Homo sapiens: one gene and its partners. The protein of the gene in region 1 purifies or fractionates together with the protein of each later gene. This does not show direct contact. Each region holds a gene or a part of one and is shown in the gene's direction. Other genes may lie near its edges.

Evidence for each region.
Region 2: the proteins of ZNF274 (region 1) and DIRAS1 purify together in Homo sapiens (affinity purification with mass spectrometry; one large-scale study listed by BioGRID and IntAct). This does not show direct contact.
Region 3: the proteins of ZNF274 (region 1) and MRPS9 purify together in Homo sapiens (co-immunoprecipitation; one large-scale study listed by IntAct). This does not show direct contact.

What each region holds. Positions count from the first base shown.
Region 1 is NC_000019.10:58,200,002-58,203,658, forward strand, and holds part of ZNF274 (neurotrophin receptor-interacting factor homolog), read left to right. Parts: intron 1-3,657. UniProt on the Homo sapiens protein: Probable transcription repressor. Specifically binds to the 3'-end of zinc-finger coding genes and recruiting chromatin-modifying proteins such as SETDB1 and TRIM28/KAP1, leading to transcription repression.
Region 2 is NC_000019.10:2,716,182-2,718,491, reverse strand, and holds part of DIRAS1 (GTP-binding protein Di-Ras1), read left to right. Parts: exon of another isoform or gene 1-180; coding exon of another isoform or gene 181-213; intron 214-616; coding exon of another isoform or gene 617-685; coding exon 686-1,282; 3' UTR 1,283-2,310. UniProt on the Homo sapiens protein: Displays low GTPase activity and exists predominantly in the GTP-bound form.
Region 3 is NC_000002.12:105,089,933-105,093,589, forward strand, and holds part of MRPS9 (small ribosomal subunit protein uS9m), read left to right. Parts: coding exon 1-63; intron 64-2,468; coding exon 2,469-2,637; intron 2,638-3,597; coding exon 3,598-3,657.

The sequences.
Region 1 (3,657 bases):
TGGGACCAGAAATACAAGTCCCTGACATGGGCTTGGCTGAGAAGAAGCAAGTGGGGTGCAAACTATGTGTGCTTTCATGTTGCAAAGAAGCTGTGTTGAATCAACAAATATTACTTGAGCACTTGCCAGGATTCCAGGTACTGTTCCAGGGCTGGATCACAGTGATGAGTGGGGCAGGTCTTACACCTGCTTTCATTGGGCCTACATCCATTCCATGGCTGATTGGATCAACAAAAATGAAGTTGCCCATTCAGTACCTCAATTGCACTGGGCACCTTTCAACTGCTCATTGGCCCTGCAGCTAATGCTACTATGTTGGACAGTACAGATCTAGAACATCTCATTTATAGAAAGTTCCATTGGACAGCACTGCTCTAGATAGGGTGATAGACATGATAAATTAATGAATCAGATATTTGGGATGGTAATGAGTGTTGGAAAGAGAAGGAAACAATGGGATACATTGGTGGGGGACAAGCGAGGTACGGGTGGGCAGCAGTAGTTCAGAACTAAGTAGGAAGATGGTTCTGAGGAGGTGACGTTTGAGCTCAGACCTGAATGGGAAAGGCGAACCAGGTGAAGATGTTGGGGAAGGTGAACCAGGCGAAGATGTTGGGGAAGACTATACCAGGCAGGAGGGTGGTGCACATGTGGATCTCTGGATGAAAGGCCATATTCTAGGAAAACTAAGATGGTGGCTGTGGGAGACCCCTTTAGCGTCAAGGACATGAAATAACAGGGTTTGGAACCCGGCTCCTTTGTTGCCCACTATGTTAGGCCGTTCTTAAATTGCTGTAAATACCTGAGACTGGGTTATTTATGAAGATAAGAGATTTAATTGGCTCACAGTTCTGCAGGCTGTACAAGGGTGGCACTGGCATCTGGTTGGCTTCTGGGGAGGCCTCAGGGAGCTTTTTACTCATGGTGGAAGGCAGGGAGCAGGCACATCATGGGAAAAGCAGCAGCCAGAGAGAGGAAGAAGGTGCCGCATACTGTTGTTTGTTTGTTTTGTTTTTTTTTTTGGAGACACGGTCTCACTCTCACCTAGGCGGTAGTACAGTGGTGCGATCATGACCCACTGCAGCCTCGACTTCCTGAGTTCAAGCGATTCTCCCACCTCAGCTTCCTGAGTAGCCAGGACTACAGGCACATGCCGCTACGCCTGGCTAATTTTTTTTTTTTTTTTTTTTTGTGGAGATGGGGTTTTGCCATGTTGCCCAGGCCGGTCTAGAACTCCTGGGCTCAAGCGAACCACCTACCTCAGCCTCCCAAGGTGCTGGGATTACAGGCGTGAGCCATTCTGCCCGGCCACACTTTTTTAAACAACCAGATCTCGTGTGATTAACTTAACCACCAGGAGGATGGTGCTAAGCCATTCTTGAAGGTTCACCAGGCCCCACCTCCAACACAGCATCACTTTTCAACCTGAGATTTGGTAGGGACACAGAACCAAACCGGATCATCCACTCTGCAACCCTGGGCAGGGTTCCTAGCCTATCCCAGCATGAATTTCTTTTTTTTTTTTTTCTTTCTGAGATGGAGTCTTGCACTGTCGCCCAGGCTGGAGTGCAGTGGTGTGATCTTAGCTCACTGTAACCTCCACCTCCTGGGTTCAAGTGATTCTCCTGCCTCAGCCTCCCAGGTAGCTGGGACTACAGGTGCCCGCCACCTCGCCTAGCTAACTTTTGTGTTTTTAGTAGAGACGGGGTTTCACCATATTGGCCAGGCTGGTCTCAAACTCCTGACCTTGTGATCTGCCCACCTCGGCCTCCCAAAGTGCTGGGATTACAGGCATGAGTCACCGCACCAGGCATATTTCTTTTGTGTATGGTGTACATTTGCTTCCTGGGACTGTGGGCAGCCTTCGTGAAATGATGGTACTGTCATTGATTCAAAAACTGAGTAACGTAAAGATGATCAGCAGCCTTTGGCAGATCCTCTACTTAGGGGTGTGAGATCCACAAGTCCCAGTTGGCAGCCTCAGTGGTACACTGGAGGAGACAGATGCAGAAGGTAATCCAACAGGGAGCTTAGGGGCACTGAGGGAATGATGAGAGAGAACAGGAGAGCTGAGAGCTTTCCAGACAAGGAGGAAAAGTGATGGGGTACTGTGCCCAGGGATTAGGGGAGCTGAGGGTAAGTACTCTTCTGACTTTTCCCCCACAAGCTGCTAAAAAGATCATTGCTTTTCGTTATATTTTGGACTGGTATACCTGGCTAATCAGCATTCACTGGCAAACAGCACTGTGAGGAAGACAGCTGCCTAAGGCCTGTTTGTCACCCTGGAAGGGAAGCAGCAGAGAGGTAGAAGTATCCTGAGAGAAGAAAATAGTGTCAAGAGGGAGAAAGCAGCAGCTCCCATCAAGCCCTTACCACATGCTGTGCCTGGACTTTGGTATCTCATCACTTTGGGTGAAGAAACTCAGGCTCAAGAAGTTAATCTCTCTTGATTAAACCCCTTGCTTTGAGCCTCAGTGAATTTGTTTCACAACCCATTAGACAGACAGTTGTAGGTGAGGTGACTACATTGCTACGGGCTCATTCAGTTGCTGGACTGAAAGCCATTTGGAGCTCCAGCTGATAGGGATTATGCAGCTCCACATGAGTGGGTTGGGTCAGTCATGTCTGTGGAATGAGATGGGTGGAATGAGAATCCAGTTCCACCTCTGCCTGGTGGTGAACTTAAGAGCTTCCATTTTCTCCTCCATGAAGTGGAGCAGCTAATTTCCTGCAATAGACAGTGGTAAGGATTGCCCTAAAGGTCTTGGGATAGTCTATGGGTTGACATTTGGAGGACTGAGGTGCACAGAATGAGTCCATCACTTCCTCACCAGTTTCTGGGTTTGTGGTCTCTCTGTTCACTGTGGTGTCCTTGGTTCCACAGCATGCAAAAGGTGCTTTATGATAACTGTGTACAGAACAGAGTGTGGGGCCTCATGGGTTAATAATAAAGATTAAAGCAGAAGTAAGTACATTAGAAAGGGGTGGGGTGGAGTAGAAGAATCCAACAGTTGTTTTCCTAGGGGCCAAGGCATGAAAATCCCTCGATTAAGGAATACAAAAATGAAATTTTAGAAATTTATGAAGTAACGTTTAAGATGTTTAAGTGTCATGCATGGTTACCTAAAATAGTACTGGTGGCCCAGTGCTGGTCTGCCACTTAGCCCCCCCCCAGGAAGTACAGATTCAGTTGGTGCATGTCCCATGTCCTAGGCACTTAGTCCGGTGCTGCTGGGCCTCCAGTAAATCTTATCCCCAGCTGCTTCTCAGGAAAAATTCAAGCCTTAAGAGCTGTAATTGGGCTGGGCACGGTGGCTCACACCTGTAATCCCAGCACTTTGGGAGGCCGAGATGGACGGATCACCTGAGGTGAGGAGTTCGAGACCAGCCTGGCCAAGATGGCGAAACCCTGTCTCTACTAAAAATACAAAAATTAGCTGGGCCTGGCGGTGGGCGCCTGTAATCCCAGCTGCGGCTGAGGCAGGAGAATTGCTTGAACCCGGGAGGCGGAGGTTGCAGTGAGCCGAGATCCCTCCACTGCACTCTAGCGTGGGCGACTAAGAGCGAAACTCCGTCTCAAAAAAAAAAAAAAAAAGAAAAAAACGCTGTAATTGAAAGAAAATAAATGAAGTATGCTTTCAAATTAAGAAAAGTTAC
Region 2 (2,310 bases), about 55 Mb from region 1:
CGTTGCCCTGGCCGACCGATTCATCACACCTAGGGCTGCGGCCCTGACATATGCATCTTAAACACCCGACCATGTGCGGCTTCCATGAGGATTGGCCATCTCTGGGTTGGCGGAAGAGCAGGGGACCCATGGTTGTTGGAGACGGGCACCGTTTGAGCCACCAAACAGGCTCAGGGTGGCATGATGGCTCGGCAAGGTCTCAGAGCCAGGCAGGTGTGGAGCGAGAGGTGGAAGCCAGGCCTGCTAGCTTCCAGGGGCCCCTGCCACACTGGGAAGAGAGGGGGAAGCTGGCACAGCCTGGAAGGGACACCCACACCCGGGGAAGGAGTTTCGTGGGCATCCCGGCGTCTCCCACGCCTCTCCTAGCTCAGCGTCCCCCGGGGAAGCTCAGGCCCCAGATTTTGTTAGGGAGAAGTAAGCAAAGGGTGTTGGCTGTGCGCCCGCCTGTGGGACAGAACTGCAAAGTCAGCCACAAGCAAATGGGCCTTTTCAGGAGGCAGGAGGCACGGCAGCCACCTCCTCTGAGAAGCCGCCATGTCCTCCTCCCTCCCCGGGGCGTGGGGCTGTCCCCTCAAGCCTGGGTGGCCTTTGACGTGTGACCCTCCTCTCTGCACAGGCTCGGTCTGGGGTTCTTGCAGCTGGCACCAGCCCTCCCGGCCCCGGCCGCCCACCCGCCGCGGGGAAGATGCCGGAACAGAGTAACGATTACCGCGTGGTGGTGTTCGGGGCGGGCGGCGTGGGCAAGAGCTCGCTGGTGCTGCGCTTCGTGAAGGGCACGTTCCGCGACACCTACATCCCCACCATCGAGGACACCTACCGGCAGGTGATCAGCTGCGACAAGAGCGTGTGCACGCTGCAGATCACAGACACCACCGGCAGCCACCAGTTCCCGGCCATGCAGCGCCTGTCCATCTCCAAGGGCCACGCCTTCATCCTGGTGTTCTCCGTCACCAGCAAGCAGTCGCTGGAGGAGCTGGGGCCCATCTACAAGCTCATCGTGCAGATCAAGGGCAGCGTGGAGGACATCCCCGTGATGCTCGTGGGCAACAAGTGCGATGAGACGCAGCGGGAGGTGGACACGCGCGAGGCGCAGGCGGTGGCCCAGGAGTGGAAGTGCGCTTTCATGGAGACCTCGGCCAAGATGAACTACAACGTCAAGGAGCTCTTCCAGGAGCTGCTGACGCTGGAGACGCGCCGGAACATGAGCCTCAACATCGACGGCAAGCGCTCCGGGAAGCAGAAGAGGACAGACCGCGTCAAGGGCAAATGCACCCTCATGTGAGCCCGGAACGCCCGCCTGCCCGCCGCCCACCCCCACTGACCCCCGCTGCCTCCCCCAACACCGACACCCTCCTCGGCCTCCTCCTCTTCTCTCATCCTTCCTCCGACACCTCGGCTGGGGAAACCGAGGCCACCGCCCCCCCCTCCGCTGCCCCTGCCCACCCCGAGGCAGGGCTGGGGCTTTTCTTCCTCCCCTGCTCTCTCTCCACCCTCCTGTTCTGTCTGTACCCTCCAAAACCAAGAGCCGGAGGTGGCCCCCTTGTCCTGCAGATGGGAAAACAGGATGGGGAGCTGGCAAGAGGAGCTGCTTGTTCCCACCAGGACCAGAGGAGGCTGCGTTTCCCCGTTTCCATCTCTTTCCCTGGGGTGTCCCCAGCCAGACCTGCGCGTCCTGTCCCTCACATTTGATCACTGTGACCTTCTGGGGGAGGGGGGAGTTGAAAATGCACATCGGCCTCAGATATTTTTTTCTTTTTTCTCCTATTTGGTGTTAACATACACCCAAGCCCACCCGGCCCGTCGTGACCTCTGATCTGTGCCCACTCCTCCGGTTCCAGACGCACCTCTCTCCTCTGTCTTCACAGTGGGGTGTGGGGCCCGTGGGATGGGCCTCAGGCCACCAGGCAATAACCACAGGGCCTGCAGCAGTGCCCCTGCCAGCCCCGAATCCCACCCCCGGGACCAGCCACATCCACAGCACAACTGCCCCGCTGGAGAGGCACCATGGGCGTGGAGGGGCTTCCCGGACACCGCCCACCCGGGACCCGCCTCTTCCACCAAGACAGAGACGTTAGCAACGCATGGCGGGTGGGGACCTGGGGTGCTCAGGAGGGGGTACCCGGGGCCCCGGCCAGAGATACATCAATTACACCCCCGTGGGGGGACAGCCGATGGGAGCCAGCACCAGCAGGATCCGAGGGCGCCCCGGACAGAGGTCTGCCCCACCCACTTCCTCCCCACCACCTGTGCCCCAGAGAGCAGGGCCTGCCCGGGAAGGTGGCGTCCTGGAGTCGAGTGTACCTGCAGCCA
Region 3 (3,657 bases), on another chromosome or scaffold:
AGCAGATGGCTGATTAAGGAGGAACTAGAAGAAATGTTAGTGGAAAAACTGTCAGATCTAGATGTGAGTAATTAATCTTTTTAATTTAAGGGGACCTATGCAATAAGAATACAGACAATTGCTGTATTTAGGATCCTAATAGTAATGTTCCTCAGAGGCAGGTGTTCCTACGATGACTTTTCTTTCTTTCTTTAAAAACAAAACAAAACAAAACAAAAAAACAAAACACATTCATCATTGATTTCTGCCTTGGGAGGACCTTATTTGTGGTCAGGGAGGTGACTTGTCGAGTCTCCAAGTCCTCCTCTTGTAAGTGCCCTCATATCCTGTGCCAGTTGTTTTAGGGAAGCACGGCAGATGTTGTTTCATCTCCTTACGTAAGGCCAGTAGCTAATTTTACAAGCTGATGATAAGTGTAAGGAGTCATTATAGGTTAAGTAGAAAAGGGATGCAGCACATGGTTACCTTCATGCAGTTTACTGCTTACCTTGTGTGCCATATCTGTAAGGTCAGTGGTTTTTATCTTGGGATCTGCAAACCACCTCTGTCGGAATCCCTTGAAATGCTGGTTACAAACTACAGTGTCCTAAGCCTCACCCTAGATCTAGCTCAGAATCTCTAGGGAGTTACCGAGGAATCTTTTTAACCAACTTTCCAGGCGAATCTTATACCCTATAAAGTTTGTGACCCCCTGCTTTAGGTCTTAATTGCATTCTTATTTTGTTAAATGTTCTAATATATCAACATTTTCACAGGACAGTTGATGTCTTAAACATTTTGATGTTCCAAATTTATTACTTTCTGGAAGATTGGGGTGTAGATAAATTTCACAAATTTTTCCAAGATGGAGATTTTCTTTGATGGCGGTGGCTAACATTGTTAGTACTTTGCCACCATATATAGATTTTAAGTCATGTACTTGAATTGTTCTTTTTCTCATTTAATGTATTATAGAAATTAATGATTTGGAAAAGTTGCAGTTTGCTTAAACAAAGTGTCAGACAATTGGTTAGTGGTAGATCCAGAGTTAATTTCTAATATCCTAACTGCCAAGTACTGCTCTACTTGAATCTAACTGAAAAATCTCTTTGCTTCTTCACTGAACAAGTAATTTCATTATTTCCTCTGTTTCTGGCTGCTTTGATTTTTTTTTAATAATTCAGGTATTTTTTCTGCTTTGTAATATCCCACGGACTTTAATACAGGTGTACAGCTATGAAAACAAAAGAAACAAGTTATATATGATACTTTGTACTTTGGGGTACTGGATATCAGAAGAAATCCTAATGTTTATGGCTGGTATCAAGATGAGGGATGTGGAGGTGGTCAGTGACTTCTTGACCTAGTTCAGAAGCAAGGCTGAGTTCCACCCATAGTGCCCCTTTGTAGGTGCAGAAGTCATTGAGAGTCTGTGAGATGCAATCAAGAGAGTAGCTGAGCACAGAACGCCCAGGCCAGTGACTGGAGAGGAGCATGGAGCTCTGCCCACCCAATATCCTAGGTAGCTGAGTATTTCACCCTTACTAGAAGAGTGCCTTCTCTTTCATTACATCATAGGAAGCTGTAGTCAAAGTAGTTCTTTTAATATTAATCTTACTGGTGAGATTTTTAAAAATTTCAAACTATTAATGGCAGATTTTTACAATAAAGGCAGTAGTGACAAAGATGAGTGTGATGTTTAACGCCGACAAAAAACATAAATAAGGTTATAAAAAACTGAGTTTCACAATCCATATTAACTAAGAATCTCAAGCATTAGTTGTTTCCTTCTCCATAAACACTTTAGAGTGATTATTCTGGCTTCTAATTTTAAGGGGTTAATTCCAAGTTGTTTACTTTCTAATCACATGTTCAAGAACTATTAAAAAAAATGCACAGAGGAGCAAGGATAATTTATTTCAAGAGGTTGCCCTTTAAGTCAAGTATCTCTTGAATTTTTAAATAGCTTGATTGTTCGGTTTTAAAGGAAATCATAAACATTAAAGTAACACAGCTTGAACAGCCAAAGATATATTTGCCAAATGTATTATGAAATATAATTTAAGAGGTACATTTTCTCAAAATCAAACTCTTTCCATATTACTATACATAACTTACTTGAAATTATTTATAAAGCTCCCCTTGATACAGTTCTAATAAAAGAGAGCAAATTACACTTGAAGATCATCTAAATACTTTTTGAAAGTGAATTTAAATCTCAATTTCATAAACATAATACAGAGAAATTGATTTTTCTTTGAATGATAAATCTCTTTGTTTCTTGAAAGAAAAGATTTGGCACTAAAGATACGCAGGAAAAGTGATGCATCTGCATGCTGTTTTAAAAGCAGCGTGAAGATGCAGAAGTGTCATCCTGTCAAAATTCATCAGGAAAAGCAACATTGGAAAGATCAAGTATGCAAAAAATAGAAAAAATTTAGCAAATGCAATTACACTTGCACCTTCTAATGAATTTTTATTGTCTGCAGTATATGCAGTTCATTCGGCTGCTAGAAAAGTTATTGACATCGCAGTGTGGTGCTGCTGAGGAAGAATTTGTGCAGAGGTTTCGAAGAAGTGTAACTCTTGAATCAAAAAAACAGCTGATTGAACCTGTACAGTATGATGAGCAAGGAATGGCCTTTAGCAAAAGTGAAGGTAATGACATTCTGTGGAGAGAAAATAAATTCAGTGAAGGTTGAAAAACTACAATTATTTTTATTTGCTATTGCTTTCTGGTATCCATTAGATTTTTTATTTGTTTATTTTTGCTACCGTTACTTTGGATTTCCTAATTTTTAAGATTCTGTTGAAGTTTTTCAAAACTGAACTGTATAATATCCTAAGAAAAAAATGTGGATGCATACCTATACAGTCATATTAACACTTTTTCTTTTCACACATTTATATTGTTGAATCTTTTAATTTTCACATTTTAAGCTGCTAGAATCGGTAAAATATTTATAATAAAGTTTTCTTTGCAAAAAATGAAAATGCTCAATGAATCTGCATATCAAATGCCAAAACTATGTAATGTGAAAACTTCACGTCCTTAACTCACATTTTTCTTGTTCAGAGCCATTAGACGTAGTCCAACTTTTACGACTTGAACTATTAAAATATTTACAACTCTTAAAAGATTTCACGTCATTGTCATTTTTAACTACTGTGGTGTTTTCAAAGAAATGTGACCTTTCCTGAGTATTTTTTTATTTCTACTAGTTATATTTCATCATACTATTTATATATTTCTAAAACTTATGTTGTTAGATATATTCTTACTGTTTATAAAAGAAGAATGCTATGTAAATTGGTTGTGGATTCTCGTAAGGGAAATGAATATAAATTACTTTGTTGGTTGTTCAAACTAATTTAAAATCATTGTAGTGTTTCTAAAATGGAATTGAAGAACAAAATTACCCCACAATGAGCTTTATTGCATCTGTTGTGCTGTAGTTTACCTGCTTTATTTTTGTTTGACTTGAAATAATAGTTATAGGACTTGCTTATGTACAGTGTTGTGTATTATTTTGGGGAAACAAATTTTAATGTAGTTTTACCTGTCTCAAAGCGCAGGTCTTCAAGATATTTACTAATAGGAATTTTATATTTTTGAAGGTAAAAGAAAGACTGCAAAAGCAGAAGCAATTGTTTATAAACATGGAAGTGGAAGAATAA